Linked DNA regions of Homo sapiens: all the other regions are linked to region 1. The links come from fine-mapping of genetic effects on gene expression. A gene starts in region 1. Each other region holds a variant in brackets. All regions are shown on one strand. Distances are between the middles of the regions.

Evidence for each region. PIP is the estimated chance that this variant, and not a neighbour inherited with it, causes the effect.
Region 2: its variant is fine-mapped to the expression of PITPNC1 in whole blood (TOPMed, PIP above 0.99).
Region 3: its variant is fine-mapped to the expression of PITPNC1 in whole blood (INTERVAL, PIP 0.99).
Region 4: its variant is fine-mapped to the expression of PITPNC1 in esophagus muscle (GTEx, PIP above 0.99).
Region 5: its variant is fine-mapped to the expression of PITPNC1 in whole blood (INTERVAL, PIP above 0.99).
Region 6: its variant is fine-mapped to the expression of PITPNC1 in whole blood (TOPMed, PIP above 0.99).
Region 7: its variant is fine-mapped to the expression of PITPNC1 in whole blood (INTERVAL, PIP 0.97).

Annotation. Positions count from the first base shown.
Region 1 is chr17:67,375,690-67,379,840 of GRCh38, reverse strand. PITPNC1 (phosphatidylinositol transfer protein cytoplasmic 1) reads right to left here and starts at 2,560. Exons shown (of 9, transcript NM_012417.4): 1 at 1,639-2,560. The coding sequence starts at 1,686. RefSeq lists silencers at 706-1,065, 1,176-1,475, 1,486-1,905, 2,256-2,505, 2,556-2,675 and an enhancer at 2,061-2,754.
Region 2 is chr17:67,399,588-67,403,738 of GRCh38, reverse strand. All of the region lies in intron 1 of PITPNC1 (phosphatidylinositol transfer protein cytoplasmic 1), which reads right to left. Among named protein-coding and RNA genes, the nearest start is that of PITPNC1, 24 kb to the right of the region's middle. RefSeq lists a silencer at 1,292-1,586. The variant T/C (reference allele first, on the strand shown) is at 1,885.
Region 3 is chr17:67,462,644-67,466,794 of GRCh38, reverse strand. The region is part of intron 1 of PITPNC1 (phosphatidylinositol transfer protein cytoplasmic 1); the gene reads right to left. Among named protein-coding and RNA genes, the nearest start is that of MIR548AA2, 6.8 kb to the left of the region's middle. The variant A/G (reference allele first, on the strand shown) is at 1,895.
Region 4 is chr17:67,633,944-67,638,094 of GRCh38, reverse strand. The region is part of intron 6 of PITPNC1 (phosphatidylinositol transfer protein cytoplasmic 1); the gene reads right to left. Among named protein-coding and RNA genes, the nearest start is that of NOL11, 82 kb to the left of the region's middle. The variant T/G (reference allele first, on the strand shown) is at 2,110.
Region 5 is chr17:67,545,420-67,549,570 of GRCh38, reverse strand. The region is part of intron 2 of PITPNC1 (phosphatidylinositol transfer protein cytoplasmic 1); the gene reads right to left. Among named protein-coding and RNA genes, the nearest start is that of MIR548D2, 76 kb to the right of the region's middle. The variant G/C (reference allele first, on the strand shown) is at 1,634.
Region 6 is chr17:67,438,817-67,442,967 of GRCh38, reverse strand. All of the region lies in intron 1 of PITPNC1 (phosphatidylinositol transfer protein cytoplasmic 1), which reads right to left. LOC124904046 (a long non-coding RNA gene) reads left to right here. Exons shown (of 3, transcript XR_007065881.1): 3 at 1,300-4,151. Among named protein-coding and RNA genes, the nearest start is that of MIR548AA2, 31 kb to the left of the region's middle. The variant G/A (reference allele first, on the strand shown) is at 1,924.
Region 7 is chr17:67,712,012-67,716,162 of GRCh38, reverse strand. All of the region lies in intron 1 of LOC101928045 (a long non-coding RNA gene), which reads left to right. Among named protein-coding and RNA genes, the nearest start is that of NOL11, 3.8 kb to the left of the region's middle. The variant TTA/A (reference allele first, on the strand shown) is at 2,042.

The sequences.
Region 1 (4,151 bases):
TGTGTATTTCATGCAGTCCCAACATTGCTCCTAGAATCCAAACTCATATCAAAAAACAAGGTCATTAGGATATGGAGTAGAGGGATCCATGCCTCCCAGCTGAATTACTCTAGCTCAACTGCCCACAAGGTGGGACAATCTCCACCTTTTCTGGAAAGACTCCTATTAACCAGTCCCATTCATTTGCCCTTCTCTTTCTCCACAAAGCTATGTCCTGCTTCTCCACTTACAAGGTCATATGCAACTCGAATCTCTGTCTACCCACCTGGCATCCACCCTTCCAGACCCTGCTTAAATGCTACCTCCTCAAATGCCAACGAACTCCAAAACTCGGTTGTTCATTCTGGTGGAAGCTGATCTCTCCCTCCTTGGCAGCCTGTGTCCCCGTGATGCGTTTTGTAAACTTGCAGCTACTTTGATCTTGTCTTGGATTGTACTTGGGTCTTACCTTAACCCTTGGTCCAGATGGCAAATACGGACAGCCCCTGTGAGCTCAGCCATGTTCTCAGTTATGCATCTTTTTCTCTCCCAAAGCACATCGCCCCTCTCACCAAGTAGTGGCTCAAAAACATATCTGATAGTTTCGAGGCACCAGATTTAAATATAAAGACGGTCTGGGTGGCTGATTTCATGTGTGTTGCCACACCAAACCACACTAGTGAGTTTCACGTTGCCTTGCTTGGCTTTGGGCTCCCTCGCTGTCCCTGGACAGAGACGCTCAGCAGTCGTGGAATCACCACAAAGGTGGGGAGGAAGAAGGGGAAGAAAGGGAAGCCGGGGCCGGAATAATCCTATCTGAGTCACCACTTCCTGAATACTGGAGCTCGCGGCTTCGCAGGATCGGGAGAAGGACAGCAGAGCCGCGCTTGGAGGACGAGCCCCCGCCCCGCGCCCGGCGCCCCCAGCCGGCAGCCGCGGCCCCGGCACCACGTGCTGGAGCGCCCTCCTGTGGCCGCGTCGCAGCCCCCGCCGCTCCCGGCTCGCGCGCCGCTCCCCGCGGCGGAAGAAACAAGAGACGCAGAAAGTTTCCGAGCCAGGCGGTTTGCGAAAGGACACAGCCGGGTCCCGAGCCTCGAAGGGCGGACGTGCCGGGAGCTGCGCCCAAGCCCGCGGCGACGGCGAGAAGTCGGGCCCCGCAGGGACCTCCCCTAAGGGCTCAGAGGTTCCTCCCGCGGGGCTCGGGGCGTGCAGATCCCGAGGGCGCAGGGCTCCTCCTCGCACCCCTACCTGACCGCAGAGGGCGGGGAGGGGAGGCTGGGCCCACGGCCAGGACGGGATGCCCCCCAAACCCCAGCTACAGCGCGCGCCGGGGGCTCTTGGGTTTGGTTTATTCATTTTCTTATTTGGAGGGAGGGGGCGCACCCACTCCCTTTGGCTCATAGTGATCCCCAACAGTCTGGATTCTGGGCGCCCCCGAAAAGCCCACCCGGAGTCCGCCGCCCCACCCAGCGCCGCCCTCCCCCGCTGGGGTGACAAGTGGAAGCCGCAAATCCCCTCCCTCCTCTCCTCCAGGCTTCGGGTTTGCGGGGTAACGTCCACCTGGGTTTCCTGCCGCTCGCCCGGGGCTCGCCGGCCAGGAGGCGGCGGTAGCGGCGGGGGTCCCGGAGCGGGCGAGGCCGGGCCGGGCGCGGCGCTTACCTCGTCTACGGTGAGCGGCATGCAGATCCGGTACTCTTTCAGCAGCATGGTCCTGCCGGCCGCGGACCCCCGGGGCGGGAAGCGGGGGGCGCCCCCAAGACCAGCAAGGCTGCTGCCCAGGCGCAGGGCAGGGCGCCCGGAGCCCGGCGCTCGGAGCCGGAGGGCGAAGCAGCCCCCGCGGCGCGCTCAGCTCCTGGCTTCCTCCTCTCCGCCCCAGAGCATGTCAGGGTTTGGGTCTGGGTGTTCGCAGCTCCCCCGCCTCCTCCCTCGCCGAGGCCGGTCCTCCCGGAACGCGGTGTTGCAAAGTCAGGGAGGCAGGGAGGGAGACCCGCTGGGGACGACTCTGCTCGGCTGCCCAGGGTGGTAGGAGCGGCCGCCAGATCAGGACATGCCCGGCAGCGAGCGAGGGAGGAAAAAAGAGAGATTTCCAAAAATTAAAACGAATGCACAAAAGTCACCCGCTCGATCCGCCTCCGAAAGCAGACGGGAACCTGGCGACCCCCCTCCTCCGGCGGGTCTGCCCGATGCTAATGTCACCAGGAACACATTGCAGCCGGAGCCGGAGATGCTGACTTTCCAGACAAAGGCTCGATCGGCTTCTCTCCGCGGGCGGTAAACAAGATTTCCTGCTCTTTTTAGGGCCGGTCCCCGCGCCGCTCCGGGGCTCGGCTCGGGGAGAAAAGGGAAGCCGCCGCCGCCGCCGCCGCTCGGCTCTGCCCGGCTGGGGCCCCGGGCGCCTCCAACCTCGGCTCGCGGCTGCCAGGGGCGGGCGGGAGGAAGCTGGCGCCTTCCGCGCGCGTCCCCTCCCCCGAGTCCCTCGGCTCCCCGGGCGCCGTGCGTGCCCGCGAGTTTGCAGCCACCTCGCCGGGGCCGGAGCGTCCGCGCCGATGCAGTGTGCCTGGGGCCGGGAGGTGGGTGCGGGAGGAGCGAGCGCGAGCGAGGCTGACATCAGCAGCGGCCGCGGCGGGGAGGGTAGCCCCATCCGGCCAATGGGGAAATGGCAAAGAATGTGGAGGATTTAAACAAAACAGCATGTCTCTGCCAGACGGCGGGGCTGCTCCGGAGCGGAGCCCGGCCGGCGCTGGGGAGGCTCGGGCAGAGGGGCTTTCCTCGGCTCCTTTGCCCTTTGAATCCGCTCTCCATTGTGCCCTGAGTGCTGCCGTGCTCCATCCAGCCCCTCTGGGAAGTTTCTGGTCCCCTGACCCTAGGGACAAGTCACCAATGCCCACCACCTATGTGTGGTCCAGTAAGCAAGTCTGGGGCTGGAGAGGCAATGGGTGGGATTTGGGAACAAACCCTTGCCTGGTTTCAGAGGAGAGATCCTGGAAAACTGGGAAGTGCAGCCGTGTGAATGGAAATGAAGTACAAACGGGGAGGGAACAACCAGAGAGAACATGAACCCCACGTAGCCTGTTACCTCGCCTGGCCCGGCTCTGCAATCTTTCTGCAGATTGTGCAGGCTCCGCGCAGCAGAAAGAAAGAGTAGGTTTTCGTATCCGCACTCCTAAGTTCAAAAAGTCACAGTGAAATGTCAATGAAAATGCCTGGAGTGTTGCTATTTGATCCATATTAAACAGATCTCTCATTTTAACCACAAGAAGCACATTCTTCAGTTACTCAGGAAGCAGCATGGAACTGCTGAAGTCTGTTTTTCATTTGTCTGGTATTTTTCAGCTTGTTTTTATGAAAAGTTGCCGGATGAAAAATGCATCAGTTGCCTGTATGAGAATAACCTGTAAGCGTTATCTTTTCTCCGAAAAATCTTCACGCTCTGAAGTCCTGAAGCTAGAGCTTAGATGGCGATGCAGATGCCTCAATACAGTATTTTGAATTGTGTTTAATTAATAAGTAATTAACCAATATGACGATGATGGGCTTGTGGCAAAAGTCATCCAGAGGGCTGGAGAGAATTTATAACTGTTAACTGATACAAACCCTCCTAGGAAAATGATACCCTATATCCAGCTTATATTTTAGTGGAAACTATTTTCCAGATAAATGCTTTCCAGAGTTGGCTCAGAAATATTCACAGCAACTAATTAAAGCTAAACCAAATTCCTCGAGGTGGAAAATCTAAATCTGACACTGCAGTGTTGAATAATAACACATTGGAAGGCTGTGATATGGAAAGAAACTCAAGCTGTTTTTCCTTTTTTTTTTTTTTTTTTTGCTTCTTACTTGAAAACAAATGGAAGACCTAATAATCTTCCCAGAGGCAGGAAGGCAAGGGATTGGCTAGCCACACATGCGCATGCACTTGGGACATCGGGATGTGTAGGCTCAGTTCCTGGCTTCCTGGACATTTCCTGACACTGATTCTGGAAGGAAGTATTCTACTGACGGGTGACACTGTTGAGGAGCTACTTCTCTGAATTTCCCGAACTGTAAATTGTCACATATATGCTTCCTCCATCATCCGTCTTGTTGCTGTTATTGGTTTGTGATGGAGTTTCGCTCTTGTTGCCCAGGCTGGAGTGCAATGGCATGATCTCGGCTCACTGCAACCTCCACCT
Region 2 (4,151 bases), 24 kb before region 1:
AGCCCAGGGTTTACACCCAGCTCTGCCATTAATGATGGGGGTAATTTTGTCAAATCCTCTAAGCCTCAATTTCCACGTCTGTTAAATGAAGATAATAGGATCCACCTTGGAGGATAACTGCAAAATTGAAATGAGATGATTAACACATTGGGCCTGGCCCACTAGAATGTTCCATAAATGTTGGCCCTCTGTGTTCTCCCTTCCCCTTAAAGCAAAGCCTTGGTAAATAAATGTCCACACGGACACATATATAATTATGATTAAATGTTTATACACTAAAAAAGTTGGCTTCACCATTTTCTAAATTTTCTCCTCTGCATACAAAATTATAATCTTAAACTGTTTCTCAAAATATCTAACGAGAACCTTATTTTAAAAATCAAAACAAATGAGGAAGTAGGGAATAGTTCATTTTTAGCCTTATGAATATAATTGAGGGTTTCATTTCTACACCCAAATACCTACTGGTTTCTGCAACAAAGGAAAGCAGTCATGACTTTTTTTTTTTTTTTTTTTTTTTGTAGAGATGAGGTCCACTGTGTTGCCCAGGCTAGTCTCCAACTCCTGGACTAAAGCAATCCTCCCGCCTTGGCCCCTTGGGATTACAGGCACAAGCACTTCACCTGGCCAGACCTATGTTTTATGATTTAGATGTTACTGAAAAGTCAGTGACTTAGAGAAAGACACAAAGGCATGCTTATCACATCTGCCACGAAGCTAAGAAGAACGGTTAATACAGATATAACAGAAGCAAGAATCAAAAACGTGGTCAGGCTAGGCGCGGTGGCTCACGCCTGTAATCCCAGCACTTTGGGAGGCCAAGGTGGGCAGATCACTTGAGGTCAGGCGTTCCGGACTAGTCTGGCCAACATGGTGAAACTCTGTCTCTACTAAAAACACAAAAATTAGCCGGGCATGGTGGTGGGCACCTGTAATCCCAGCTACTTGGGAGGCTGAGGCAGGAGAATCACTTGATCCAGGGAGGGGAAGATTGCAGTGAACAGCGATTGCGCCACTGCACTCCAGCCTGGGCGACAAAGCGAGACTCCAACTCAAAAAACAAACAAACAAACAATAAAAACATGTGGTCAAACTTGAAACTAGTGGATGCCATTCATTGCATTTGTTTCAAAGTCCTATGGTTACGGCTGCTGTGGTATGGCTGCTTGTTTTCGGCAGAACACATACCCACAGGTTAGAGAGACAGCTTTGTCAGGAAATGGCGGAGGGGCGGGGGATGGGGGGTGGAGAAGACCAAGTGTAACTGACCACCTTGTCAGAAGCAGCCAGCAGTTTGATGCGGCTTCTGAAAATGACAGTGCTAGTGTTAAAGCTGAAGTTCCAGTGGTTTCAGCACTGGTCCTCCAATATCTAAGATCAGTAAATAACGGCCCATGGGCCAAATGCAGCCCATAGCCTGTTTTTGTACGCCTCTCCAACTACAAATGGGTTTTGCATTTTTAAATGGTTGGAAAAGAAAAAGCAAAAGGCACATAATATTTCGTGGCATGTGAAAATTTTATGAAATTCAAATTTCAGTGTCCACAAATAAAATGTTACTGGAACACAGCCACGCCTATTCATTTACATGTTGCCCTATGCCTGCTTTCATGTTACGAGGTCAGAGTTGAGTAGTTGCAACAGAGACCTTACGGCTTGCAAGTCTAAAATATTGCTATCTGGCGGTTTGCAGAAAAAGTTAGTTGACCTCTGCTGTAACGCATTGCGTTCAATATTTTCTAAAGGGCAATAAGAAAGAGGAACCACAGGAATGGTGAGGGAGACAAAAGCATTTCATAAATTCAATCTGAAGGAATTGAGAGTAGCAAGCCAGTGGAAGAGAAGATCAAAGGAGAACAATCTAGATTTCTTTTCTTTTCTTTT[T/C]TTTTTTTCTTTGAGGTAGAGTCTCACTCTGTCTTCTAGGCTTGAGTGCAGTGGCGCAATCCCGGCTAACTGCAACCTCCGCCTCCTGGGTTCAAACAATTCTCTGCCTCAGCCTCCTGAGTATCTGGGATTACAGGCGCCCACCACCAGGCCCGGCTAATTTTTGTATTTTTAGTGGAGATGGGGTTTCACCATCTTGGCCAGGCTGGTCTTGAACTCCTGACCTCATGATCCACCTGCCTCGGCCTCCCAAAATGCTGGGATTACAGGCATGAGCCACCGCACCCAGCCAACATTATAGATTTCTTTAAATGTTTAAAGAGTCAGCATGTGGAAAGGGCTTGTGTTTGTCACTATAGTGGTAGAAACGATCCTGAAAGCTCTAAGGAGTCAGATACCAACTAAACATGAGAAAGCATCTTCCAACAAATCAAAGTGGAAAATCATAGAGGTTGTATTACCAAAAAGAGCCCACACCCAAGCGATGGCTGGTATTAAGCCCAAAGGCAAGATGATTGCCATCCAAGATTATCATAGAAAGGACTCTTAAGTGGGTAGGAAGTTTAACTGGTTTAATACTCAGGTTCTTTCCGTGATTTTATCTCAAAAGAAAGAAAACTGGCCAGGCGCGGTGGCTCACGCCTGTAATCCCAGCATTTTGGGAGACCAGGGCGGGCGGATCACTTGAGGTCAGGAGTTTGAGACCAGCCTGGCCAATATGGTGAAACCCCGTCTCTACTAAAAATACAAAAATTAGCTGGGTGTGGTGGTGCATGCTTGTAATCCCAGCTACTCGGGAGGCTGAGGCAGGAGAATTGCCTGAACCCGGGAGGTGGAGGTTGCAGTGATGCAGTGAGCCGAGTTGGCACCACCGCACCCCAGCCTGGGTGACATGACAGAGTGAGACACCATCTCCAAAAAAAAACAGAAAGAAAGAAAACAATCATAATTGGCAGGTGAAAGCGTAACGAACAATTTCTGCTACCACATTCACGAAGGATTAGACCCTACAGGGAAATCTACTTTTATTATATATTTATATATGTATTTTATTATATATAGTTATATGTAATAAATATATATCGATTAAAATGGGCATGTTAAAAAGAGGCCTTTCATTTAAATAGAGTACATCAGCTATAAGAAGAATCACATTAGGAAAAGAAGGGTTATTTTTAGAAAGAGGGCTCTGGTTACAAAAAATAAGGAAAGGACATCCACTGCTAAATAAAATGAGCTGAAATCTTTCCTTGTGTTACTACAGGAAATCAGCACGGCACTACTTGAAAGAGGAAAAAAGTCTATATATAAAACGGAAAGGGGGAGGAATGCGTTTTAAAAAAATGCTAAACTATAAACTACAGTTAAGGGCACAGTCATGTGACTTATTTGCACCAGACTTCTTCGCAAAATAGTTTTGCAAATGACTTCCCAAAGCACAGCCACCTGTTAGGCTGTTATTTTGGCCTATTTCCAATGGCAATCTTGTCACCCGAGCAAGAGACACACCACCATAGCAACATAAACATCAGGGTGCTGGAATGAAATTTAAAGTAGCAATTTATAGCCCCTGCAGGGCTGGAAATAAACTAATCCTTAAGCCTTTATGACTATGACACAACATTCCCACTGGGCAAAGTTAGATCCCACGGACATCTCAGGATTTCCCATAGGCCATTTGGAAAGCAGAGACTCCAAAATACCTATGGCACTAGAGGGTCCCCCTAAAATAAAGGCATTTTAAAGTGTGAAACAGTACCTAGCCCATCATGATCACCAGGTGTTTTCACACTCCCCACAAATGGACAATGACCATGACCCCTTGTATTTGCAGAGTAGGCTCCGTATTGCATGAGATCAGCCCCTAATACAGGCCAAAAGAGGGCATTTGACAGTTGAGAAAATTGACAGGTGAGGCCCAGGAAAATGAGTCTTTCTCAATCAAATCATTGATATCACACAGCAAGGACTGACTAGGTCTTCCGTGTCCACACTCTTCCACAGTATTGCACCAACCCCAACTCCGGGCAACTTACAGGTACTTTGGCTCAGGGAGATAAAATGCAAAGGTGTTTCATCAAATGAAAAGGTAGAGTAAAATGAAAGAAAAATCAAGTTTGAAAGTGACTATGCCTGTTTTCAGGGGTAAGTTTTTGCACTGTTGGAATTTGCCATTTGATATTGGAATACATTCTTAAATAAATGTGGTTATGTTATACATCATTTTAATGCACATTCTTTCACTTTTTTTGCTAATGACTTATTAC
Region 3 (4,151 bases), 87 kb before region 1:
CTCCCAGCCCAACCTCCTGCCAAGCACCAGGGCCAAGCACTCCTCCTGCGACTCCCAGAGGGTCCTGTTCAAACCACAGGTGCAGAAGGTGCAGACATCTGACTCCTATTTCCTCTGTGTCCAAGAGTGGGGGTTTTTCAAGCAAAAGGGCTAACAACACTGAATTCGGAAGGCAAGAGGGGTACTTTGAAGTGGGACTCTTAGAGGACTGCTGAACTTACTGTGTTAAAAGGGATGAGTTAGAAAAAGGCCAACACCTGGCCCTTTCTCTTTGCTGTTTTGGGTCGTGTGGGAGGGCCCTGCATGAATCCTTTACTAGGCACTGGTTGCTGTGAGTTTCAGCTACTAATGGGTCCCATCTGCCCCCTTGTTTGTAAATTGCGTTTGAACAAATGGGAACCTCTCCACCTGTGGGAGGCCCACAACCAATCAATGGCTGACATTGAGAGGGGTACAAAAGGCTGACTTTGGCCAGCCCAGTGGCTCACACCTGTAAATTCCAGTGCTTTGGGAGGTCAAGACAGTAGGATCAATTGAGGCCAGGAGTTTGAGACCAGACTGGACAACATCGTGAGACGCGCCCCCCCCCACCCCCCCACCCCACCATCTCTACAGAAACTTTAAAAATTAGTTATGCATTTGGGCGTGTGCCTGTAGTCCCAGCTACTCAGGAGGCTAAGGTAGGGGGATCGCTGGAGCCCAGAAGTTCAAGGCTGCAGTGAACTATGATGGCACCACTGCACTCTAGCCTGGGTGACAGAGGGAGACTCTGTCTCTAAAATAAATAAATAAATAAATAAATAAAGGCCGACCTTGCCTGACGGGGGGGAAACCAGCTCTGTGATGCAAGTCATGGACTCCCAAGACACCTGAAGTTTAGATTTACCCCCGCCCTACCATCCTCCCAGCCCTCTAGCCCCCATCCCATACATCATCTCCATGAGAATCCCTTGACTTCTAGGGAAACCTGACAAAAGGCACAAGGAGCTAAGCTTCCACGAAGTTTTGGGAGTATTTGGTTGATCCCAGGAAGAGAATTTCCAGTTCAAGGTCTCCAGTGCTTCCCAAGGGGAACTAGGCACAGAGGACTCAGAACCCAGCCCAGCTAAAGCCCCGAACATCAGAGAGGAGCCTCATTTCCCTATTCCACCTTATACAGATTGGAGAAAGGCTATCCAGTGCAGGGGCTCTGTCATTCGTGGGTGACAGCTCCTGGATCCTATGAAGATCCTACCACAAAAAAGCTGATTTTGCTAGTTCCTGGGCACCCTGAACCCAAGTTGGGGACAATTCAACATTGGCATGTGAAATCTCCCGGAGCACTTAAAAGGCAAAAAGAGTTATGTCTGCCACCAAGTCTTTTTCAAGCAGCTGCTTATGGGATTCCACATCGGTGCTACCATCACGGCACAGACTGTATTTCCTTAGTGCATTTCAAGACTTTCCTCTGCACTGGCTCATAAGGAAACCCTCTCCCAACACACATTCTATTACATTCCCTTCGTCCCCTTTCTCATTTTCCTCTGCTCCTCCTGGGGCTTCCCACAATTACCTCCCCAAATCTTCACCTTAGAGGTGGCCTCTGGGGACCGATCACTCAAAGACAGGTGTATGTTCAACAACATACACTCTTAAAATCCCGATTTCACAGTGAACAGACACAGAATGCAACACACACCTCTGTGATCTAACTAGCCATCATTTGCTAGCCAAAGTGCTTGATTCTGGGGCACAGTCAATTAAAAGTGAGAGTTGTGGCCGGGTGTGGTGGCTCACGCCTGTAATCCCAGCACTTTGGGAGACCAAGGCGGGTGGATCACCTGAGGTCAGGAGTTTGAGACCTGCCTGGCCAACATAGTGAAACCCCATCTCTAATAAAATTCAAAAATCAATC[A/G]GGCCTGGTGGTGCATGCCTGTAGTCCCAGCTACTCAGGAGGCTGAGACAGGAGAATTGCTTGGACCCGAGAGGCAGACATTGCGGTGAGAGGAGATTGCACCACTGCACTCCAGCCTGGGTGACAGAGTGAGACTCTGTCTCAAAAAAAAAAAAAGTGAGAGAGTTGTAAAATCGTGGTCCAAAACACCCTACGAACTTTATTAAATTCATAACGCTGTGCTTTTTTTGGTGCAATTTTAAATTAGCTTTTTAAATTAGCTTCCATCAATCTTCTCCTGGTCCACTGTATTTCAGATGTTGAACTCAGGACAGTGTTGAAAGATTTTTACGGGGTGAGTTCCACAGTTCCAATTCCAATTTACCATTCTTCCTTTTGTGACTTCCTCTTAGAGTTCGCCAGCCTATGGGTCCTTGAGGACTGAAAACCAATGAATTAATCAAAGGAAAAATGTTCTGTTTCCTCCATTTAGAAATTCATTGAAATATAGATGAAGTCCATCATGAACAGCAGGACGTTCTGAGAAAGCCATCAGCCTAAATGTCTTTATGAATAACTATTATGTTAGATGCTCAAAAGATCTTACATCTCACTTAGATGAATAATCCAGCCACCAAGGAACACTGGGAAGCAAATGAACATAAGGCAGTCTATACTTATTTCTCTACTTAGATGAACACAGAAAATATCATTTTTTTTTTTTTAATTGAGATGGAGTCTCGTTCTGTCGCCCAGGCTGGAGTGCAGTGGCGTGATCTCTGCTCACTGCAACCTCTGCCTCCCGGGTTCAAGCGATTCTCCTGCCTCAGCCTCCAGAATAGCTGGGATTACAGGCACGAGCCACTGTACCTGGCCAATTTTGTATTTTTAGTACAGATGAGGTTTCACTGTGTTGGCCAGACTGGTCTCGAACTCTTGACCTCAAGTGATCTGCCCACCTTGGCCTCCCAAAGTGCTGGGGTTACAGGCATGAGCCACCACACCTGGCTCTTTTTTTTTTCTTTTTTGAAATGGGGTCTCACTCTGTCACTCACACTGGAGTGCAGTGGTGCTGCAAGCTCTGCCTTTCGGGCTTAAACGATCCTCCCACCTCAGCCTCCCAAGTAGCCGCCGGAACCACAGGTGTGCACCACCATGCCCAGCTAATTTTTGTATTTTTTTGTAGAGATAGGTTTTTGCCATGTTGCCCACAGCGCCAGTCTCAAACTCCTGAGCTCAAGCTATCTGCCCACCTCAGCCTCCCAAGGTGCTGGGATTACAGGTGTGAGGCACTGCGCCTAGCCAAACACATAAAATATCTTTCCATTTTTACTACCGAATTCACATTCAGGCAGCTTCTCCTGATATCAGCGATGCTCTTTGACCCCAAGTCAAGGACTTCCGGAAGCCGAATTTGCTACCTCAGACTTCCAATGTACTATGTGAAGTATAAAATGATTACAACACGGAGATGACATCCTGTTTCACTTGTAAGAATTGGTAGTTTGGGCTCAGAGAAAGCTCAATCAATATTGCCACAACTGCATGTATGAAAATATATCCCACCAATTCAATTAAGTGATTAATCAATAATGCACATAAGTTTAAAAAAAAACTGATCAAAATCAAGCTTTCAATCCCCCCTACCCACCAATCAGAGGCACAAAGAAACACCATCCATATTCATTCCTGTTTAGCTATTATAAATTGTTACTTGCTATGCAGAAGTATTTATAAGTCTGAATTACTACAGGATGTTTGTGGTTTGAAAAATACAAATGCTATATCTCATCAGTATATAATTATATATGTACACAGTCTATATAAACACAATTTATGTATTTGTCTATAATATGCAAACCAAAGTCTTTAGTTGAGCTCAAGCTAAATAGTCTTTGTTTTTAAAAAATTTCCAATTGTTGCCGGGGGCGGCGGCTCACGCCTGTAATCCTAGCACTTTGGGAGGCTGAAGTGGGTGGATCAACTGACGTCGGGAGTTCGAGACCAACCTAACCAACATGCAGAAACCCCGCCTCTACTAAAAATACAAAATTAGCCGGGCGTAGCGGCCCATGCCTGTAATCCCAGCTACTTGGGAGGCTGAGGCAGGAGAATCGCTTGAACCCAGGAGGCGGAGGTTGCGGTGAGCCGATATCACGCCATTGCACTCCAGCCTGGGCAACAAGAGTGAAACTCCATCTCAAAAAAAAAAAAAAAAAAAAATTCCAATTGTGAAATAATCATTACATAAATAACTTTCCTAGCTCCACCTCATTTG
Region 4 (4,151 bases), 260 kb before region 1:
GCAGCGGCAAGACACTATGTATCAGCCACATAACCAGTCCAACCTGCTCAGCTTTTGGCTTCACCCCTTTTCCTGCTTTGGTGTTGATGATGGTCATTTTACATGTGACATGGTGCAAACAGCTTTATGACTCTTATGGGCGGGCAGGGTCTCAGTGGTCTGTGTGACTAATGGAGGGGCTCTCTCTGCCTGAAAAAAATCACACTAATTCCTCCCCCACCCCCACCCCACAATACGGCACTGCCCTGCAGAGTCCATTAATGACTATGAGAACAAACTTGAAGCTAAGAGGTTTTTGAGAGCTGAAGTTCAGGCCCTAACAGGAAACAGCAACACAGCAAAAATGAGAATAAGGAAAGCACAGAGCTGGGCTATCAGCTGGTCCTGAATCCCCAAAGCATGCTTCTGAGTCCCCGGTTAGTGGCGATGGCACGAGGGCCATCGGGCAGAGGGCACCCAGTGGAAAACTCCAAGCTCTGGTCACCTTCATGAGAGAGGCAGTCTTGATTGTGTGGCTCAAAGGTTTCCAGGGAGAAATGGAAAAAGAAAGGAAAGTGCTTTCATCCCCTCCTTTGGCCTGGATGGCCGTGTGTGTGTGCAACAGTAGCTGAGTGGAGAGGAGCAACCCAGATAACCCTGGTCTGGGTTCATCAGCATCAAAAAAATCCAGGAACAGATTCGGCCCATCAGCATCCGGCTTCCTCACATAAAGAGCGTTTCTATTTAGGACGCTGACATCGTCAACTTACAAAGATGGATGGGAAGAAAAGGCCCATGGAGCTGGATGCCTCCGATTAAAAAAAAAAAGGAACTCTGATTCACAACTGCTTGCTTAATGGCAACGAATTCATTTTCTTTGATAGCGGTTGCTCTGAAATTGTCACTGCTGGAAGAAAAAAAGCAAAGTCCCTTGCCTTCACTCATTCATTCAGCAACCATTGAGTGAGCGCCTGCTAAGCACTGGTGCTGTGGCAGCGGCTGGGAAAGAGCCAGCTCTTGTCTTCGCAGAGCTCATGCCATAGTGATGAGCTAGCATAACCTAGCATGATCTAGAAGCCACGGACCAGAACTTTGCTGCCTCCAGACCAGCAGTGGTGGGGGCATGCCCAGGAAAACTCAGAAAGGGGGAGTCCTGTGTGAGCTGAACTCTAAAGGAGGGCCAGTGAGGGGTTTCAAGCAAAGAACAAGGTCAGATTTCATTTTAGAAGGAAACTCCTGTGGTGGGGTGGAGGGTGTTAATTATCTACAGTGTGCCAGTTAGACATTTGTTTGGAAATGGTTTGCCTTCTGAATCGGTTGTTCCTCTTATTCCCAGTCCCTGGTGTGTTTACAGTAGACACAACCACCAAAACAGCCCAGGAAACTCACCCCTCTTCCTTTGGGTGGGTTCAGACTGCAGTCTGTATTCTGGCCTGTTGAAGGTGATGGGGCTGGGGTTACGAGGGAGTCGCCCCTGGGGGAATGCTTTTTCTAAGATTTTATTGCAGGCTCCCAGTGGTACCTATAGCCCTTTGTGGTCCGGCTGCCAGGTCCACGGAGGAGGAATTCCACCTGTTCCAGATGCCAGCAGATCCCCTGGGAGGTCACACAATGGATGATGAATGTGCAGGGCTCAGCCCTATGGGGCCCCTTCTCCCGCATCCATTTAGTAACCGTAAGACTCCAGGGCGGGCCAGGGGTGGCCCTGAGCGTCAAAGCTGAATCCAGAGTTCCATCCATCTTCAATCACCTCTTCCTGTAGAACAAGGCTTCCCAGCCTTGGCACTATGGACATTTGGAGCCAGATAATGCTTTTTTTTTTTTTTTTTTTTTTGAAACGGAGTCTCGCACTGTCGCCTGGGCTGGAGTGCAGTAGCGCAATCTCGGCCTCCTGGGTTCAAGTGATTCTCCTGCCTCAGCCTCACGAGTAGATGGAATTACAGGCACCTACCACCATGGCCGGCTAATTTTTTGAATTTTTAGAAGAAACGAGGTTTCACCATGTTGGCCAGGCTGGTCTTGAACTCCTGACCTTGTGATTCACCTGCCTCGGCCTCCCAAAGTGCTGGGATTATAGGCGTGAGCCACCGCGCCCAGCTGGAGCCAGATAATTCTTTGTTGTGAGGGGCT[T/G]TCTGTGCTGTAGAGGATTTTAGCAGTATCCCTGGCCTCTACACTCTAGATACCAGTAGCACCTCCTATGTTTTGACAACCAAGAATGTCTATAGGCATTGCCAAGCATCCTCGTGAGGCAATAATCACCCCCAGTTGAGAACTGCTCCAGCGGACAGTTTTCCATTCTCTTCCTACTCGATCTCTTGGCAGCATTCAGCACCTCTGGTCACTCTCCTCCTCTTGAAACTTGCATTCCTTGGTGCATTTCTGTGTTTTCCTCCTAACTTTCTGGCCAATTCTTTTAGACTCCTGATTCTTTTAGATTCAACCTGATCTCCATATGCTGCCATCCTTGAAGGCTCAGACTTGAACCCCTTTCCCATTTATATTTCATGCTTTCTTCCTCTCATCCATCCCCAGGATTTTTAAATCTCCTATTCGCCAAATACTCTCAAATTGGTCTCCCAGATCTCTCACCTAAGCTCCAGACTCATTTCTGTCTGTGTTAGATGCCTCACTGACATCACAAAATCCACTCATCTTTCTCCAACGTATACCTCTCTTCTCACCTTCCCATTTCAGTAAGCAGCACCCCCATCTATCAGTTGCCCAAGCCAGAATCCTTAAGGCCATCCCAATTCCTCCTTCAACCTCATCCCCACATCCAATCCATGAGCAATCCCTGTCAACTCATCTTCAAAATATACCTCCAAACCATCTGCTCCTGTCCATCTCTGCCACCAGCCCTCTAGCGCAAGCCACGACAGAACCTAAGTAACCGACAATATAAATCACAATAGTGACCTTGGTGGTCTCCTGACTCTGTTCTTCTCCAGTCCATTCTCCATCCAGAACAATATTTTAAAAGCATAATTTAGATCCTATGACACCTCAGCTTCATTTATTATTTATTATTATTTTTTTTGAGACCGAGTCTCTGTTGCCCAGGCTGGATTGCAGTGGTGCCATCTCGGCTCACTGTAACCACCGCCTCCTGGGTTCAACCTCAGCCTCCTGAGTCGCTGGGACTTCAAGTGATTCTCCTGCCTCAGTCTTCTGAGTAGCCGGGACTAAAGGCGCATGCCACCATGCCCGGGCAATTTTTATATTTTTAGTAGAGTTGGGGTTTCATTCTGTTGGCCAGGCTGGTCTCAAACTCCTGACCTCAGGTGATCTGCCTGCCTCGGCCTCCCAAAATGCTGGGATTACAGGCGTGAGGCACTGCGCCCGGCCTGAAATGTCATTTTTTCCATAGCATGTCTCCTGATCCTATCCTCTTAAATTCAGTTTCCTTATCACAGTCTCTCCCCGTACCTGCCTTCCTGCACGTGTGACTCTGAACTCCATATGTATCTGTGTGACTATTTCTCTACTGTTCGCCAAATACTCTCTGCGTGGTATTTGTTAGATTGGAAGTGTCCTGAAGGGAGGGACCCTAAGCATCTCTTTGGCTCATTGCTGTTTTTTTTTGAGACAGTTTCTCACTCTGTTGTGATCTCAGCTCATTGCAGCCTCCACTTCCCAGGTTCAAGCGATTCTCATGCGTCAGCCTCCCGAGTAGCTGACCACCCTGCCGGCTAATTTTTGTATTTTTAGTAGAGTTTTTGCCATGTTGATCAGGCTGGTCTCGAACTCCTGAACTCAAGTGAGCCGCCTGCCTTGGCCTCCCAAAGTGCTGGGATTACAGGCGTGAGGCACCATGCCCAGACATCCCCATCTTAACATTGTATGTGACACTCAGTGAGGACTCCATAAATATTTATTGGATGAATAATTACTGGACTCTTTACCACTCATCTCCTTGGCCAAGCTGCATCCAGGGAAGAATACTCTAGGACCCAGGGAAGGAGGTACGGACGTGCCCATGAGTGACCCTGTGAAGCATGAAGGAAAAGCTCCTCGAATGTCTGTGTGAATGAAAGGAAGCTTTCTAGTGGAGGTTCTTTGGGGGCACAGAGCACAGGGAAATGAGTCAGGCACGTTGACTAGAAATGAGACTTGATTTCTTCATTAATATTCTATATTTGTATCAAGACTTCCTACTGAATCAGGAGGGAACT
Region 5 (4,151 bases), 170 kb before region 1:
CAAGTCGAGACTTTTTCTATTTGTAAATGGTCCCTCAGGACCCCAGATTCTAGAATCTATTTTAGCTGTTTCAGCCACCAACTTATATAGGATATGCAGCACGATAATCAATGACCTTTTCCATTGAGATGGCCTAAAAAACCACGATCATTTAGTCAAGATAGCTGATATTTTATGGAACTCTTCTTCCTTTTTTGGGAGACGTCTCGCTCTATCCCCACACGAGAGTGCAGTGGCGCAATCTTGGCTCACTGCAACCTCCGTCTCCTGGGTTCAAGCTATAGAGACAGGGTTTCGCCATGTTGACCAGGCTGGTCTTGAACTCCTGACCTCAGGTGATCCGCCCGCCTCGGCCTCCTAAAGTGCTGGGATTACTGGCATGAACCACCGCGCCCGGCCTGAACTCTTCTAATCAGTCTGGAAAGGAGGTTCCTTCTGGTATTTTCCAGGCCAGACGCGAGAGGTATTTGCAACAAGTTCCATGATGCGCTATTTAAATACTTTTAAGCCCACCAACAGATCTTCTCTCAGCCCCCGATTTCCTCACAGCACATCATTATTCCAATCATTTGTCTGAGAAAGTAAAATTTATTTTTCCCTGCAGCAATGATTTATCAGGGCCTGCAAAGGAAAATGGAATTAAATTAGTCCCCACTGTTGCTGTCACTTTCATGATGTATACTGTCACACAGCCTACAATTCCAAGAAAAAGTCTGTCACTCATGCTCACTCTAAGTGTCAAACAAGAGCCTCTCTATTAGAAAGGCAGCAAGTTTGAATCGAGTCTCCTTGGTCTATGGGCTAGGATCAAACCTCCAATGGCCCATCTCACCAGGGCTCAGGCTTTAGAGACATTGAGGAAAAAGAGGGGCAAAATGATACCACAAGCAGCATCATATTCCCCCAGATGCCTTGTCAATGCCTCCCAAAGACAGACTTTTCAAAAGCTTTGGTTTCTTACTCACTTTATTTATTTATTTGAGACAGAGGCTTGCTCTGTCGCCCAGGCTGGAGGGCAGTGGCACAATCTCGGCTCACTGCAACCTCCATCTCCCAGGTCCAAGCGATTCTCCAGCCTCAGCCTACCATGTAGCTGGGATTACAGGTGCATGCCACCACGCCAGGCTTATTTTTGTATTTTTAGTAGAGACAAAGTTTCACCATGTTGGCCAGGCTGGTCTCGAACTCTTGACCTCAAGTGATCCACCCGCCTTGGCCTCCCAAAGTGTTGGGATTACAGGCATGAGCTACCATGGCCAGCCCGGGTTCTTACTTTTAAACGTTGGTATAAAATAGAACATATCAATGACACAGCCAAGTGGACAACTCATCTGGTTTGCCTGGGACTTCCCTGGTTTTAACACTGAAAGTCCCACCTGCCAGAAAATCCCTCAGTTCCAGGCAAACTGGGATGGTTGGTCACCCTAGAACAGGAGTTCTCACTAGAGGGAGATTTTGCCTCCTGCAGGAGACACCTGGCAATGTCTGGACATTTTCGGTTGTCTCAACAGAGGCGAGGTGGGGTGGGCAGTGCTACTGGCATCTACTGAGCAGAGAGAGGCCCAGGGTGCGGCTCAGCCTCCTATGATGCACAGGATAGCCGCCCCCCACCACCACAGCAAATAAAGATCCA[G/C]CCCAAAGCATCAGCAGCAACAAGGTTTTGAACCCTGGCAGATCATCTCTCATGTCATAAATTCCCCAAGGTTCCCGAAATCACAACTGATTTAATAAGAAGGTTCAGGGGCAGGCATAATCTGAACTGGTCTCAGGTTATGGGTGTTTACCTACTTCATAAAGAGCTTCTGGAGCAGAACCTAAATCATCCCTCCATTAGAAGCTTCTGGTACTTTACGATCCCTATGATCACAAAATTCAAAACTCCCCCTGGTACCTGATCTCACATTGCAATGTATGCTCACTTGGGCTTTGGCTCCAGGAGGTTTTGAACATCATTAGGCCAAACGTGTCTAAATAGAGTCTAATTTCATTTTCTCAACAGGGGTCAGAATTACGGTGGTCTTAACTAGAAATTTTATTTTGTTCTTTTTCTCTTTTGAGACAGGGTCTCGCTCTGTTGCCCAGGCTGGAGTACAGTGGCATGATCGTATCTCACTGCAGCCTTGACTTCCTGGGCTTAAGTGATCCTCCTGCCTTGGCCTCCCTGGTAGTTGCGACTAAAGGCATGCACCACCACACCCAGCTAATTTTTAAATTTTCTGGTAGAGATGGGGTCTCACTATGTTGCCCAGACTGGAATCAAACTCCTGGGCTCAAGCAATCCTCCCATCTCGGCCTCCTGAAATGCTGGGATTACAGGCATGAGCCAGTGCACCTGGCCTTTACCAGAACTTGAACATTCCCAGCAGAAAAGACAGTCCTGGAATTTTCTTCTCAACAGCGTACCTAAAACCTGCCATGTTCTGCACTGAGATTATGCTGAAATGACTGCAGCTCATTTTAAATAGAACTCTGCTACCTTCATATCCTCATTTCTCACAAGATAGTCCAGGAGGAATATACTGACCTTTTGTTTCCTTCTTGTACTAAAACTGGCAATTGACATCTGTTTGATTCATAATCAATTGCCCCCATCCAGTTCTATGTGCAGTGATTTCTGGGGTCTTAAAATATCTTCTCCAGCTGCTCTGATTCATTTAGTTACTCTTCTAAGTGATTGTTCTGGCTGGTCTTTTACTTGTGCTCTTAATGTAATTGTTTATATGGCAGTAGGGAAGTGAGCAGTTTCGGGACCAGAGTTATCAGCTGTGGGAGGCAAGGCTGCCGGGGCCTCCCCGGCAGGGACTGGCCAGAAACCAAGTTCCTTGAACTTGGACTCACGGGCCCCACCCCCGACCTCCCTGCTTAACAAGACAGTTTGTGTCAGGATTCTGGGAAAAGGAGCCTGCCTCCTGCAGGTTCCTGGAAGGCTCAGCTTGGACAGCATCAGGGTTATGTGGACAGTGTGCTGAGAAGCCCCTGGCAAGGCGACACAGGACACACCATCATCCATCAGCAGTGAGGCAGAACCCAGGTGGAAAGCCTCCTGGAAAACCTCTGAGATCCCAACCAGGCCTAAACATTCTGTTTCTATGAGTTCCTACAGGAGCACAGGGAAGAGGGGCCCGGTAGCATGAGAGTCCCTCACAAGTCCTTAAGTACTCAGATGGGGACAGAATAGGATAGCATGGACTGAAAGGTTGGAAGGAAGCACCCCATGTGCTCTATTATTTTCCATAACACTTATCACCTTCTAAATATATATATATATATATATACATATATAGTCTCCCTATATAAATAATATGTAATATACATAAGTATACAGACTATATAAAAGTATATATTCTAGACGATATACTGTTTTGTTTTTGTTTTTGTTTTTGTTTTTGTTTTTGAGATGGAGTCTCACTTTGTCACCCAGGCTGGAGTGCAGTGGCATGACCTCCACCTCCCAGGTTCAAGTGATTCTCCTGCCTCAGCCTCCCGAGTAGCTGGGACTACAGGCGCGGGACACCACTCCCGGTTAATTTTTTGTATTTTTCCTAGAGATGGCGTTTCATCATGTTAGCCAGGATGGTCTTGATCCACCCACCTCGGGCTCCCAAAGTGCTGGGATTATAGGGGTGAGCCACCGCACCTGGCCAATATACTGTTCTTTATTATGGCTATTGTGCACTGTCACTCCCGAGTGGAATGCAAGTCCCACCAGGGCAGGGATGTTTGCTCTGTTCACTATTGCAACCCCAGCACCTAGAACGGTGTGTGATGCCCAGCAGGTGTTTCTGTCTCTCCGTCTGTGTATGTGTGTGTATATATATATGTATAGACTATGTATACAGTCTAATATTCACATAGTCAAGTAACTTGACCAGCTATTACTAGATAAGGAGCCATCTTTCAAACATAGCATGGGCAGCAGCTTATATATTTTGGTAAAAAAATAAAAATAAATGAATAAATGGATAGAGAGACCCATATTTTATGTTATTTATTTTGAGACAGAGTCTTGCTCTGTCACCCAGGCTGGAATGCAGTGATGCAATCTCAGCTCGCTGCAACCTCCACCTCCTGGGTTCAAGCAATTCTCATGCCTCAGCCTCCAGAGTAGCTGGGACTACAGGCATGCCACCACACCTGGTTAATTTTTGTAT
Region 6 (4,151 bases), 63 kb before region 1:
CCTGGATTAGTGTGAGAGCTGGAGGTATTGCCTAGGTGTAAAATTTAAGAGGGTGCCTCAAACCTCAGCAATACAGATAAATATTATTTTAATGCATTTTTTTTAGTTTTTCTGGGACAGAGTCTTGCTCTGTTGCCCAGGCTGTAGTGCAGTGATGCAATCCCAGCTCACTGCAACCCTTCGTCTCCTGGTTCAAGCAATTCTCCTGCCTCATCCTCCAAAGTAGCTGGGACTACAGGTGCACACCACCATGCCTAGCTAATATATATATATATTTTTGTATTTTTGGTAGAGACAGGGTTTTGCCACGTTGGCCAGGCTGGTCTCAAACTCCTGGGCTCAAGTGATCCACTTGCCTCAGCCTCCCAATATGCTGGGATTACAGGCGTGAGCCACCACGCCCAGCCATAATGCATTTTTTTTTAATCAAAATGAATGCAAAGGAAATTCACGATGAAAATACATCCAAATTCTAAATAAAGATATGCTTGTTCTTGTTTGTTTTAGGGCCCTGCCTTCTTCCCCACTGGCTGCAGAATGCCCATCCCACCCTCGTCATCTCCCACCACCTCATCCACTGGGCGGGCTTACGAGGGTTGACAATAATAGGATTACAGATTGGACAACATGAGACTTTACTCATAGTCAACTTTTTTTTTCATTGTAGAGCTTCATTAACTTTTCCACTTGGTCCACAATATGGGAGGATATTTTCATGCATATATATATATATATATATATATATATATATATATATATATATGCTTATTTTCCCCTGATCCAGCTCCAATATGGTTTGGCAGGGCAGTGCAATCAACATAGCAATAAATGAGGAGAGGCAGTCCTAAAGCAATAGTAAAAGTTTAGATGGTTAAAGAGGAGAAACCAGATTCAAGCAACATTTCTGGGGCAGAAATGAAAGAATGTGGAAATACAGCAGGTGCATGAGGCTGAGGCTCAGCTTGGGCTCAGCAGAGTTTATTCTACTCAACTAAATCACAAACGCTTCAGGGGTTACAATCCCATTCTCCTATTCTTCTGTATCATTTTGCACCCAGCTCAGTAAGTTCCTGTTAACTAATTAAGTGGAAAAGAAGAGCTTAAATCCAAGGCATACATGACTGAAGCCAGGCGTGTGCAGTTCCTACTTCATACAGCCTCTCTTGCCGAACAGCAGGGCGCACTGATGAATATTCAAAAAGTAACAACTATTAATGACGACTAAGACCCTCAAAGTGTAATAAGTTATTTTAGTGACACTCTTCTGTCACTTTTCCCCATCTAATTTCACATTCTTAGGAACAGGGAGAAGAATAATTGACGTCGGGGCTTGGCTTTATGGTCTTTACAGCTGTGATCGGATTAGAAGAAAGGCTGACAAAAGTGTTGTTTCCATCCGCCTTTTACAATCGGAGAGAATGAATGAGCTGCTTTCCAGTTTTCTGTTCCAAGTATTAACTGGATTCCCACTTCACTTTGCTTCCGTGATTTCTCCTCTGCTTATGTTAGCTTCCGTCTCACACGATATGTACATAGCCCCATCTCTGCCGAGCAAATCAGAGGCTGAGCTCTGGGCTGTGGACAGTGTCAGTGACAACAAGGGTGAGTCGTCCTCAGATGAATCATCAGGTGTGGGAAATGCGTTTGAGACACTCAAAATAACTGGGGACTGATGGGTGGCGGGGGGGGGCTTAATAAATACAAGCCTGCGAGACCTAACTTCTACACGTCTTCAGAAGGCTGAGTTGCTTTGAGAGGGAGATACAGAAGATGACAATTTGCTGCCAGTGGCTGGTCCCAGACAAGGAGCTGTGACTAAACAGGAAATCAGTTACTTAGCAGTTGAGCGGATGTTTGAGTGTTCAAAGCACAGGCACAATAGCTATACTCTGATATGTCCTGTAAAGTTAAAAACAAAGCCAG[G/A]TTAACCCTGACAGATGCACCCAAGACTGATACACTTAGGTACTACCTGGTTGCATCGCCTGGGGATCTTAATACTCTGTGAATCATTATGAATTATAATATTTAAAGCTGTTGTTTATTTGGTATTTATTGGGTGTCATAATGTTCCCAGTGCTACACAGGCGTAATTTTTAAACCACCCCAAAAGTCCTGCAAGAGGTTAGGCGTGATGGCTCACGTCTGTAATCCTAGCACTTTGGGAGGCTGAGGTGGGCAGATTTCTTGAGCCCAGGAGTTAAGAGACCAGCCTGGGTAACATGGCAAGACCCCTATCCCTATAAAAAAAATTTTTTTTCAAAAAAAAAATCAGCCAGGCATGACGGTGCATGCCTGTAGTCCCAGCTACTTGGGAGACTAAGGTGGGAGGATTACCCAAGCTTGGAGAGGTAGAGACTGCAGTGAGCCATGATGGCACCACTGCACTCCAGCCTGGGCAATGGAGTGAGACCCTGTCTCAAATAAATAAATAAATAAATAAATAAATAAATAAATAAATAAATAAATAAAAAGTCTTGCAAGAGAAAACATCTCCATTTTTCAAAAGGAAGTTACAGAGGTTGAGTAATTTGCCTGATTTCACTAAGTTGGTCATAACAGAGTTTGGATTCAAACCCAGAGCAAACGAAGGCTTAGAGGGACTAGCAACTTTTCCTTTTGAGGTCTAGATGATCTTACTTTTTGTTATTAGGGGTCAAGGCCAGGATTAGAAGGAGACAAGTGAGGTTGCGTTTGCCAGTGCGGGGTTAGAGCCTGTCTTTAGCATTTTGATATTTTGTTCATTGTAGAGTATTGTGCATTAATTTTTATTTTTTAAAAATATTGCATCAAAATATTATTTACCCTGATTTTTAGTTTTTTGGTGCCATCTTAAATTTTGAGCCCAAGGGCTAGTGTTTTACTAGCCTCACTATTCTCTAGGCTTTGCTCAAGGCTACAGACAATCTGTGATCACCTGAATTAAGCCAACAGACAGTTCTCATTTCAGACAGACTTTTCATCTTCCTCCTGCCTACCTCATACATTTTACATCCCAAATTACTGCCTACTGGGAAAGAAGGTTTTGGGTTTGTTTTAACTTGTTTGTTTGCTTTTTTGTTTGTTTGTTTGTTTTTCTTTATCTTTTTCCTTGATTCATCACCGGCTGAGATACATACTATATAAACAAGAAATGTGGCAAAAGGTGGTATATCAAGAAACGGGATGCCAAAAATTTCACACAATCCGTGAACACATTTAAGCATACTTAAAAAAGAAATGTCCATCTCATCAACAAAAAATAAGTATGTAAGGTGAGAGATATGTTAATTAGCTTAACATAATAATTCAACAATGTATTCACATATCAAAATATCACCTGGTATATTATAAATATATATAATTTTTCATTTTTCAATAAATGAATGAGTGAAATGTGGAAGAGTAATGTCAGGCCCCCGCCCAAGGCTGGAGAACATATCTTTTTCTATGAGAAATTTTCTTCCATAATTGTCAGATCTTCAAACATCTGCTTCACAGAAGTGTCTCAGAGCCCTATCACAGATACAAGATTAAATAAATACCATAAGCTGAGGCTGTGGGTTGTCACTGGCAGCTGGAGGGACAAAAGTCATCTTTTTATTCCTAACCTTTTGTTTCTGCAAATGTAGTCTATTATGACATGCACAGGTATTAGGAGGGTGACGGCCATGCCAATAGCAAACACAGCTGTTTTGAATCCTATTCTGTATTTTTTATTAACTAAATACAGTGCTTGGTAAAATAAAATAAAATCAACATTAGGAGGCTCATCAATTACACAGGAGAGAAATGGTTACATAGAAATTGACATCATCCAGGTAATATATGCCTAATCAATTTCCTAAGCAAATCAGATGCTTCTGGGCTGAATTAAAGAAACACCTTTAATTAATTCAGCACCTACTGTGTGTCCGAAACCAACCAGAAACTTGTGGCCCAGGTTTCCTAGGAGAAACTGATGACCAATAAGCTACTGCCATTTGGACCTGTATTTTGTGGAGAGTGCAGGTCATTTTTTTAATTTAAAAAAGTGCTCAATTGCAGTCCCTTTCTACAGGACAGGCCAAGGGAAACGGATGGGAGCAAAGCAGGTGGATCTCTGGCAGGATTACAATCAAATTAAATGCGCATGGCCTGGAGTTTTCTTTTCAGCACTTTCAACTCAGAATAGT
Region 7 (4,151 bases), 340 kb before region 1:
GCCTGGGGCACCAACAGGGAGATTCCCTAGAAGTCTATCGCAGTTATTGTAGTTACCAGGTGAGAGGTGATGAGGGCACCATCAGTAGCAAGGCTTTTCTTTCTTTCTTTCTTTTTTCTTTTTTGAGGCGGAGTCTTGCACTGTAGCCCAGGCTGGAGTGCAGTGGCGCAATCTCGGCTCACTGCAAGCTCTGCGCCCCGGGTTCACGCCATTCCCCTGCCTCAGCCTCCTGAGCTGGGACTACAGGCGCCCGCCACCATGCCCGGCTGACTTGTTTGTATTTTTAGTAGAGACAGGGTTTCACCTTGTTAGCCAGGATGGTCTCGATCCCCTGACCTCGTGATTCGCCCGCCTCGGCCTCCCAAAGTGCTGGGATTACAGGCGTGAGCCACTGCGCCCAGCCTTTTTTTTTCTTTTTTGAGACAGAGGTTCACTCTTGTCACGAAGGCTGGAGTGCAATGGCACAATCTCGGCTCTCTGCAACCTGCAACCTCTGCCCCCCGGGTTCAAGCGATTCTCCTGTCTCAGCCTCCCGAGTAGCTGGGATTAGAGGCACCCACCCCACACCTGGCTAATTTTTGTATTTTTAGTAGAGACGGGGTTTCACCATGTTGGCCAGGTTGGTCTCGAACTCCTGACCTCAGGTGATCCACCCGCCTCAGCCTCCCAAAGTGCTGGGATTACAGGCCTGAGCCACCGCGCCCGGCCACTTCACATTTTCGTATTCATGGCACCAGCAATTGTCTGTGATCCATACAAAGAGCTTAATACACGTTTGTTGAATAAGTCACACTTAACGTTGCAAGCTAGGATAATAAATAGAACGTGGACTTGATCCATTAAGGGAAAGTAAGACTTCCTGGTTGAGAAAGCTGGAACTGTGCTTGCATATTCGTCTGTAAATTTGAGTCTAAGTTTGGTAAACTATTAAAGGAGATTACAATCCTTTCTGGAAAGGACACCAGCTATAATAAGGGAACTAGGAGTCTTCTGCAACCAAGCCTAAGCTAGGAACGGGTCAGGAGGCGTTCCACTTCCAATGTGCATCCATCAAGGTCAATGAGCAAGAAGAGGGTCTGGCTATCCCTCACTGGTTAGAGACATTTAAGGCTGGTCTTCAAAGGCAGCTGTGACCCTGTGCATTTTACTGTGTGTTGTGGATGTTCTCTCTGGATTGTTTGTCATGTTTATGCTGCTTGGCTGCCTAGCTGTGAAGACTGGGGGAAGATATTGCCTCTCACATTCAATTCCTAGAATAGAATCAGATGATAAATATACAATGAATGAGTCTAAATATATAATGGGTAGGAAGGGAAGCCTGCTCACATTCAAAAGGGAGGATGTTACCCATTAGAAATTTGTCATGGAAGGTTGACAGCTGGTGACGTGTACATTGCATGAATGGGGTACAGTAAGTGCTTCATCAAAGGAATATTCGTAGAAGGACCATTCAGCAAAGAAAGTGAATGGTAGATATTTGTATGCCACCAAATCTCTATATTATTTGAAAGTTGTGGTGATTCTTAAATAAGATCTGAGATACTCTAAGATATGTTTTTCGGTTTCAGAAACTCAAAAAACCTTTGCGGTAAATGTTCAGACCATAGCAAATAATTGAACAATATTACCAGAATTTAGGCATATGCCCCTGAAGAAGTTTTCTGCCCAGCAAAAATCAGAGAGAGAGAGGAAGAATCTAAGATCTTTGTCATCCTTTGGGGCATACATTTCAACCTAATGTTAGCGCCCTCCCGGTGGTGCCAAAACCCAATGAGTATATTTTAAATTTTTTTATTGTGCTAAAATGTACGTAACATAAAATTGCCATTTTAACCTTTTTAGCAACTTTTGTTTTGTTTTGTTTTTTGTATTTTTAGTAAAGACACGGGTTTCACCATGTTGGCCAGGATAGTCTCGATCTCCTGACCTCGTGATCCGCCCGCCTCGGCCTCCCAAAGACTTCCACACCTGGGATTACAGGCATGAGCCGCCGCACCTGGCCTGTTTTTTTTGTTTGTTTGTTTTTTTGTTTTTTTTTTTT[TTA/A]AAGAGACAGGGTCTTGCCACGTTGTCCAGGCTGGTCTTGAACTCCTGGGCTCAAGTGATCCTCCTGCCTTGGCCTTCCCAGTAGCTGGGATTACAAGCGTGAGCCACGGCACCAGGCTCTTAACCTTCTTTTTTTTTTTGAGACTGAGTCTCACTCTGCCACCCAGGCTGCAGTGCAATGGCACTATCTCGGCTCACTGCAACCTCCTCCTCCCAGGTTCAAGCAATTCTTGTGCCTCAGCCTCCCGAGTAGCTGGGATTACAGGTGCCCGCCACCACGTCCAGCTAATTTTTGTATTTTTACTAGAGACAGGGTTTTGCCATATTGGCCAGGATGGTCTCGAACCCCTGACCTCAAGTGATCCACCCACCTGGGTCTCTCCAAGTGCTGGGATTACAGGCGTGAGTCACCAGACCCGGCCTTTTAACCATTTTTAAGTGTGCAGTTCTATGGCATGAAGTACATTCACACTGTGTTGCAACCACACCATTCATCTCTGGAACATTTTCATCTTCCCAGACTGAACCCATTAAACAATAACTCTCCATTCCCCCTTCTGCAGCCCCTGGTAATCACTATTCTACTTTCTGTCTCTCTGAATTTAAATACCATAGCTCAGATAAATGGAATCATTAAATATTTGTCCTTTTATGTCTGGCTTATTTCACTTAGCACAACATCTTCAAGGTTCATCCTGTTGTAGCATGTGTCAGAATTTCCTTCCTTTTAAAGACTGACTAATATTCCGTTGAATGGATATACCACATTTTGCTCCTCCATTCTTCCATTCATGGACAGTTGGATTGCTTCCTCTTGGCTATTGTGAATAACGCTGCTATGAACATGGGTATACAAATATCCCCTTGAGATCGTGCTTTGTTTTTTTTTGCTATATAACCAGAAGTAGAATAGCTGGATCACACAGTGATTCTGTTTTTAATTTTTTGAGGAAACACCATGCTGTTTTGCACAGCAGCTGCACAATTTTACATTTCCGTCAGAAGTACACAAGGGTTCCAGTTTCTCCATATCCTCACTAACAATTGTTATTTTATGTTTGTTTGTTTGGTTTTTTTGAGATGGAGCCTTGCTCCGTCACCCAGGCTGGAGCGCAGTGGCGCGATCTCGGCTCACTGCAACCTCCGCCTCCCAGGTTCAAGCGAGTCTCCTGCCTCAGCCTCCCAAGGAGCTGGGATTACAGGCATCTGCCACCACACCCAGCTAATTTTTGCATTTTTAGTAGACCATGAGCACGAGGTCAGGAGATCAAGACCATGTTGGCCAGGATGGTCTTGATCTCCTGACCTCGTGATCTCCCTGCCTCAGCCTCCCAAAGTAATGGGATTACAGGCGTGAGCCACTGCGCCTGGCCTAAAAAAAAAAAAAAAAAAAAAAAAAAAAAGTTTTAAGCTAAGGTCTGATTTCTGTTTTGAAAGGATCACGCTGGCTCTCAAGCAGAGAATAGCTCATAGGGGATAAAAAGCAGAAGCAGAAATACCAATTTTGAGGATACAAGAGATAGTGGCTTGTGGTAGGTGGTGATAGCGGAGATAGGGAAAAGTGGATCAATTCAGGATGTGATTTGGAGGGAGAGTTGACAGGGTGGCAGATGGGTTGAGTGTGATGGTGAGAGGGAGGGAGGAATCAAAGGCATGTTCTGCACATTTACCTTGAGTGACCAGGTGGATTGGGGTGTTCCCTACTGAAATGGGGAAGTCTAGGCAGGGGAGTAGCACATTTGCAAGGGTTGTTTGGAGAAGCCATACCCAAATTTCTATTTTGGCTGTGTTAAGTGAGATGCCAAATAAGCTGTATCCCATATGATGCTGGAGTTCCTGGCAGAGCCCAGGCGGGTGATATAGATTGAGGTATCATTGGCACATGATAGGAATATAAAGCAGTGGGACTGGAGTAGGTTGCCAAGTACTGTGGATTTTATCTTCTAAATATAGCTCAACCTGTCTACCTCTCTCCTTCTCCACTGGCCCCGCCCCCATTCCCAGTCCCATCTCTTTCTTGGACCGCAATAATTGCTTCCTGGTCTCCCTGCTTCTTTGTTGCCTTCTTCCAATCTGTAGCCAGTATGATCTATTAAAATTCAAATCCG